Homo sapiens: one gene and its partner. The protein of the gene in region 2 purifies or fractionates together with the protein of the main gene of each other region. This does not show direct contact. Each region holds a gene or a part of one and is shown on either strand. Other genes may lie near its edges.

What was found.
Region 1: the proteins of ATL1 (region 2) and RNF185 purify together in Homo sapiens (affinity purification with western blotting, with the first as the bait; one study listed by BioGRID). This does not show direct contact.

What each region holds. Positions count from the first base shown.
Region 1 is NC_000022.11:31,194,377-31,198,202, reverse strand, and holds part of RNF185 (E3 ubiquitin-protein ligase RNF185), read right to left. Parts: intron 2,735-3,826; coding exon 2,622-2,734; intron 1,268-2,621; coding exon 1,213-1,267; exon of another isoform or gene 1,046-1,212; intron 1-1,045. UniProt on the Homo sapiens protein: E3 ubiquitin-protein ligase that regulates selective mitochondrial autophagy by mediating 'Lys-63'-linked polyubiquitination of BNIP1.
Region 2 is NC_000014.9:50,587,431-50,591,256, forward strand, and holds part of ATL1 (atlastin-1), read left to right. Parts: intron 1-400; coding exon 401-648; intron 649-3,510; coding exon 3,511-3,645; intron 3,646-3,826.

The DNA of each region.
Region 1 (3,826 bases), on a different chromosome or scaffold from region 2:
CAGAGCATCATGGAAAACCTGCCAAAATTAAATTTTAAAGCAAACAGAATGGTGATGGCTACATAAAAATACATATGCACAGCCTACAGATGAAGAGAACATGAGGATATGAGAATATACTTGTTCTGGGCTCTTGGCAATGGTGGGTAAATATTTTGCTTTTAAAATTTCTTTAACATTTTAACAGAATTTTTTTAAGAGTAACATTTGATGTAAATATGCAAAAAATGTAAATGTTTTTGTTCCTAGCCACTAGACCACTAGAGACAAATGTGCAATTTTTTTTTAGCCAGTAATCTTACTTCTAAGAATTTATCCTAAGCCAGGTACAGTGGTTCACGCCTGTAATCCTAACACTTTGGGAGGCTGAGGTGGGAGGATTGCTTGAGCCCAGGAGTTAGAGACCAGCCTGGGCAACATAGTGAGACCTTGTTTCTACCCAAACAAAACAAAACAAAAAAAAGAAAGACAAAAAAAAACTCAAAAAACTAGCTGGGCATGGTGCCGTGCACCTGTGGTCCCAGCTACATGGGAGGCTGAGGTAGACTGAGCCCAGGAGGTCGAGGCTACAGTGAACTGTGATCACACCACTGCACTCCAGCCTGGGCTACAGAGTGAGACCCTGTCTTATCCTAATAAAATAATAATGAACATGCTCACAAATTTATCTGTAAGTTCATCAGGATTTTTTTTAACTTGGAAAAAGAAAGCCGCTAATGTCTAACAAAGGATTGAATTATGTTAAATCCACACAACTAAATGCTAAACAGCTAGTTAGTAAAATATTGCTGGCAATGTAAAATCTCAAGATAATACTAAAAGACTCCCACTCACACAAAGAAGGTACTAAGTATCTGTAGAACAAATGAAATTTTAAGAGAGGGTTACAAAACAGGAGCCACATATTGTAAAAAACAAAAAACAAAAACTGTAAAAAGTATACACACATCTGTAAAATACACGCACAGATTTGTAAAATTTGTGTGTATATATAATTATAGAAAAATGGAAAAGAAAATAGAACCAAAATGTTTCCAGTGGTTACCTCTGGATTGGTGTGGTTATAAGTGATTTTTTTCCCCCTCTTTTCCTTTCTGTATTTTACAAGTTTTCCTTTACTTTTATAATCAAGGAGAAAAATTGTAAGGCTAAGAAGGAAACTTCTAAAGCCATCAGCTCATTTGTAGAAGCTTCTCCTAGAATGTTCCTCACCCCTCTATTCTCCGGCTCTGGCCTCTGTCCTTGAGGACGAGGAGGGGTCTTCTCTCTGAAACAGAAATGGTGTAAAATAAGTCTATTACAAATTGCTTTGAGTTGCTCCCTGTGAGGACCTGGAGCTCTTTACCAACAGGGTCAGGGCCATAGCCTCTTTCTTGTCCAGGACATGAACTTATGCCAGATTAATTCTCCAAATACGAACTCTTCATTCTACCTGCAACTGTTCTTCCCACGTGTATAGAGAACCAGGGAGAAAATCAACTCGTTATGAGATATTCACCAGATTGCACTACAGCCTACTCCTCTTACAGAGATCCTGACTCAGATCGGTTAGGAATCATGGCCAGATGCCTTCCCTGGGCCTGTTACAGATAACAGAAATCCCAAATCCATACTGGAACAGAGGGTGGGTTGTCAGCAGTAAGGGCTGAGGTTCATGGTTTCTCTGACCTTCCCCTATTAACTTCAGCTCTATCTCCTACTATTCTTGGGCAAATACCCAATGCTATTATTTTTGAGTCTCACCCCCTCAAATCACTCAACCCATGAATACTCAATTGAGGGCTTAGTTATACAATAAGCATTATGCAGGATGCTGTAATACTGATGACAGACCCAACCCTTGAAGTGTTCATGGTTTCAAGGGGGATAAAGCCAGTCATATGACACTGTGGTGGGAACTGGGTGAGAGCAACTAATGTGAAGAAGACAGACCACTTCAAGGAAGAGGGAACTTTAGGGCTGCTCATAAGAGATGAGTAGAAGTTAGAGGAGCAGGTGGGGGTAGAGGGGTAGCTTGAGCAGGACTGGGGAGGGAAGAAGGCAGAAGAGAGAGCAAATACACAGGCTGATAAATGTGAAAGAGCAAGTCCCTTTAAGAGAAAGTCTAATATGTCGGGTACACAGCATATGCTAGGGTAGCTGGATAAAGGTAAGAGATTCTTCTGGAGAGCTTGGGGATGCCAGACCATGAAGGGCTCTCAATACTTGTGTTTGTTGAATGCTGGACCCATGCACATCTCCATTTCTAGAAATCCCAAACTCCACAAAGTCACCCAGATCCTGTTTCCCCTCCCGCCATGCTTTATACATCACTGATGCAGCAACCCTGCTCCCTGGAGCCTCTCCTGCTACATATCCTGCTTCCCAGGTTGCAGAAATGCTCTTTCACAGGGCTCTGCACACTTGTGATTGTGATGTCTGTTCACTGCTGGGTCCTAGCAAGTGGCAACTTGGATCCCCTCTCTTCCCTCCCCTCCTAGCTGACTCTCATCTGGATGAGACTGCTTCGAAACCAAGAGATCATCTAGTACTAAGTAAAGGGTGGGGTTAGGGGATGCTGAATGGGAGTGAATTCACATCCAAGGGGAGAAGTGGTTGGGAGAGGCATCCTGAGTCCTCACCTGGGGTCCTGTTGCCCAGTGCTGCCCCTTCCATAGAGGGGGATGACCTTGTCTCGGCTGATGCCAGCTTTGCAAACAGGACACACCTGTCTGTTAGGTCTGGTCTCCAACCACTGCAAACAGGAGAGAAAAATGCATGTGGATGGCCCAAGACCCACCAGAGTGATCAGCCAGAGCCACCAGAACAACACAGGCCAGAGGCCTCAAACTGGGAAACACCAGCATGAGCAGGGAACATCTCAAGGAACCTGACTCCCATTCCTTCTCCTACCATTCAGCAAATACCTACCAGTGGTAAAATCAAAATTGCCTTTAAATATCATCATAATTGGCCGGGTGCGGTGCTCATGCCTGTAATCCCAGCGCTTTGGGAGGCGGAGGTGGGTGGATCACCTGAGGTCAGGAGTTCAAGAGAAGCCTGGCCAACAAGGTGAAACCCCGTCTCTACTAAAAATACAAAAATTAGCCAGACATGGTGGCGCATGCCTGTAGTTCCAGCTACTCGGGAGGCTGAGGGAGGAGAATCGCTTGAACCCGGGAGGCGGAGGTTGCAGTGAGCCGAGATTGCACCACTGCATTCCAGCCTGGGCAACAGAGCAAGACTCTGTCTCAAAAAAAAGAAAAAAAATCATCACAATTAGGCTTCTTCATGCTTTGTTTCTCTCTAGGGCCTCCTAGCAACACAGGGGGAGGGAAACTGCAAGTCTGGGGCTGTCAAGTCTGACATGCCCAGCCTCAATTTAGGCTGCTGGTGTAAGTACAGCAAACTTTAAATCCCCACCTTCCCAGTAGGAGCAACTGTATTTTCCTGTCAGTCATATTCTTCTTTCTGTGATTTCTCATTTTTTTTTCCCCAGACAGAGTCTTGCTCTGTCACCCAGGCTGGAGTGTAGTGGCATGATCTCAGGTCACTGCAACCCCTGCCTCCTGGGTTCAAGCAATTCTCCTGTCTCAGCCTTCCAAGTAGCTGGGATTACAGGCGCCCACCACTGCGCCCAGCTAATTTTTGTATTTTTAGTAGAGACAGGGTTTCACCATGTTGGCCAGGCTGGTCTCAAACTCCTGACCTCGTGATCTTCCTCCCTTGGTCTGCCAAAGTGCTGGGATCACAGGCATGAGCCACCGCGCCCGGCCAATTTCTCATTTTTATAGCATTTTCCCAACAACTGTGTATCCCAGGCATCAGAATCAGGAGATAAGCTGAT
Region 2 (3,826 bases):
GACAGGGTCTCCCTCTATTGTCCAGGCTGGAGTGCAGTGGCACAATCATATCTCACTGTAGCCTTGACCTCCTGGGCTCAAGTGATCCTCCCACCCCCGCCTCCTGAGAGCTGGGACCACAGGCACGTGCTACCACACCTGACGAATTTTAAAATTTTTTGTATAGACAGGATCTCACTATGTTGCCCAGGGTGCTCTTGACTCCTGGGCTCAAGCGATCCTCCCACCTCAGCCTCCCAAGGTGCTAGGATTACAGGCATGAGCCACTGCACCCAGCATAAAATGAGCATTTATAATTCCAGTATGCTCCTGTGTCGGATGTTTGAGAGTTAAGAGGTACATATACATTTCTTGGCACTTTGAGATGATTAGCTGAACCAGTCACTGCTCTGTTCAACAGGTGGATTTTCGGAAAAGACATATGAATGGAGCTCAGAAGAGGAGGAGCCAGTGAAAAAGGCAGGACCAGTCCAAGTCCTCATTGTCAAAGATGACCATTCCTTTGAGTTAGATGAAACTGCATTAAATCGGATCCTTCTCTCGGAGGCTGTCAGAGACAAGGAGGTTGTTGCTGTATCTGTTGCTGGAGCATTTAGAAAAGGAAAATCATTCCTGATGGACTTCATGTTGAGATACATGTACAACCAGGTATGCAGGAAGTACTTTAAAAAGTTTTCTTTCTTCTGTGCTTCTGTCACTTCATGTTTTTATTTCATGGTGTTCAAAATTTTCATTTCTATTATTATGTACCCTATATATGAACCAGCTAAAGAAATGCTGTGGTGTAACCATTCCAACCTCAGTGCTTTGGGGACCAAACTACACAGACCAATTTTCTCTGAAGCTGCTTTGCTGCATTTCCCTTAGAATATAACTTATATTTTTATTCTTTTAAAAATAGGCACATAATATTCTGATTATAGACTTAAATGTTATAGTGTTTAAAATGTCACATAATTTTTGTATTGTAATCACTTTTTTCCAACATTTAGTATGAAATATTTCAAGCATATAGCAAAGTTAAAAAAATTTTATACTAAACATCTTGGTATCCACCACCCAGATTCTACCATTAACATTAGTATTCCTGCTTTATCACTTATGACTCCATCTATTCATCCCTCTTTCCAGCCATCACTCCAAGTTATTCTTTGATGCATTTGAAAATAAATTGCTGGCCGGGCACTGTGGCTCACGCCTGTAATCCCAGCACTTTGGGAGGCCGAGGTGGGTGGATCACGAGGTCAAGAGATCAATACCATCCTGGCCAACATGGTGAAACCCTGTCTCTACTAAAAAAAAACACACAAAAATTAGCTGGGTATGTTTTCCTTGTCCTTCAAGGTTATTTTTCAGGCTTAGGATTTTTATGAATATCTCAATGTAGATCATTGACTCAGAGTGAATGTTATGGAAATGTTATTATGCTAATTAATAATAATCACAATTTATTCATTGAAGTATGCATCCCAAGACATTTTTCCAGGTAATACCTTATTGGAAAAATTTCAATTTCTACCTCAATAGTAATTATTTATTGACTACCTGCTAAATGTTCTAGATTGTGCTAGGCACTATGGTGGATACCAAAGAAAACATACCATAGATTTTGCACTTAGGCATCTCATGGTTTGGCCAAGGAGACAGAATAACAATAGGTGAAATATTTAGAGCATCATTACATGGTGATATGGTGACAGATATATTTTTTCTTTTCTTTCTTTCTTTTTTTTTTTTTTTTTTTTTGATACAGAGTTTCACTCTTGTTACCCAGGCTGGAATGCAGTGGCGCAATCTTGGTTCACTGCAACCTCTGCCTCCCGGGTTCAAGGATTCTCCTGCCTCAGCCTCCCAAGTAGCTGGGATTACAAGCATGCGCCACCACATCTGGATAATTTTTTGTATTTTTAGTAGAGACAGGGTTTCACTATGTTGACCAGGCTGGTCTCAAACTCCTAACCTTGTGATCCACCTGCCTCGGCCTCCCAAAGTGCTGAGATTACAGACATGAGCCACCATGCCCAGCCTGATCGACGTATTTCTAAGTGTAGTTCAGGGAAGGGCATATTGTAGGCAAAAGTAACTGGAGAAAGCTTCATAGAGATATTGGAAGTTAGAATAGATTTTGAAGATGTGTGGATCTGGACCAGAAAAGGAAGAATGGACATTCTGGACTATGAGGAATAAGTATAATATATGTATTAAACAGAGTGTACACCTTCTTCCCTAGAGTGGAAATTAAGTATTGGAGATGAAGAAGAAATAAGATTGAATAGGTTATTGAGCCAGATAATAGAACAAATTCACAGAAGAACCAAAGCTCTTGATAACGGTCTAAAATGCCTTTTAGAACAAGATAGGATATAATTAAATACATTTTTCTTTAAATTAGTTTATGTAGATTTTTTATCAGTCCAAGTAGTCCTCTCCCAAATTCCTCTGCATTCGTTACTGTAAGGTTTTAGATTGGACAATTATCTAATGAGATCTTCCAAAAACTAATAACTTATTCTCTGTAACAGATATCAAAATGGGGGTAACTACTATCAACCAAGGTCACCAATTACTGACTTACTAAATCTATGGGATATTTTCCATGCCTTATCCAACTTGATCTTCAGCCTTTAAACAATTGATAATTTTTCCTATTCTGTCTTCCTTTGGCTTCTCAAACTCCACTTGCATCAGTACTTGTCTATTCCTTCCTGCTGTCCTGGCCCTGGTCAGACCTTCAATCATATTTTTGACCTTTATTATAGCACCCCCACCTTTATCTTTTCTAGCTATCATTTCCCTTCCCTACTAACTAGCCCTACCTACTTCTAGAATAGTATCTTTCTACCACAACTATGATGATAATTCATCTCTGCTTCTTCATAACTTTCCGTCGCCTGCAGGATAAAATCTGACTCCCTTAAGGACCTTACAAGGTCTTTCAGAATCTGGCTGTCTGTCCAGCCTCTTCCTGCTACTTGCTTCCTCCTCCCACAAAACCAAAGCATAATATGCTCCCTACTTCCTTCCTTTCTGCCTGCCTGCCTGCTTGCCTTCCTTTCTGGAATGCCTTCTCCAAATTTGCTTCCCTGGAAAATTCCTAAATATTTTTCAAGTCTTAGCTCAAACATCCTATGTGGTCTTGCCTGACCAATGGTTAGTTATTTATTTTCTATGCTACCATTTATGCATTATATATACTTCCATTTTGGCATGCATTTATTGCATCATAATGGTTTGTTTGCATGTCTGTCTCGCTGTTAGGCTGTGAATTTCCTCTGGTCTGCAATGATATCTTTTCATTTTTATATCCCCAGGACATATCAAAAATGTGGCAGATGGTTGCTCCTCTGTAATTATTTTTTGGATGAATAAAGTGATGGTATCAATGCAATAGATGTGCATATGTTGTTTCCTTTTAACTCGAATTGGAGAGGGATAAGAATCAGAATGAATGAATGGAAAAAACTATATACACATATCAAGTTCCATATCATAGACTTTATCATTTTATAGGAATCAGTTGATTGGGTTGGAGACTACAATGAACCATTGACTGGTTTTTCATGGAGAGGTGGATCTGAGCGAGAGACCACAGGAATTCAGATATGGAGTGAAATCTTCCTTATCAATAAACCTGATGGTAAAAAGGTATGATGCTAACTTCCTAAATAAAATTGAGTTTTCACTTATAACAGTTACTACTTTTTAGGATCCTTGAAGTTGCACTTTTGAAAATTAATTTTGACCATTTGACATGAAGCTTAAAGTGGGGTAGCATCCTATAGCATGATCTTTGTTTCCCTTTCTTGTGATCAGAGTAGGCGAAATT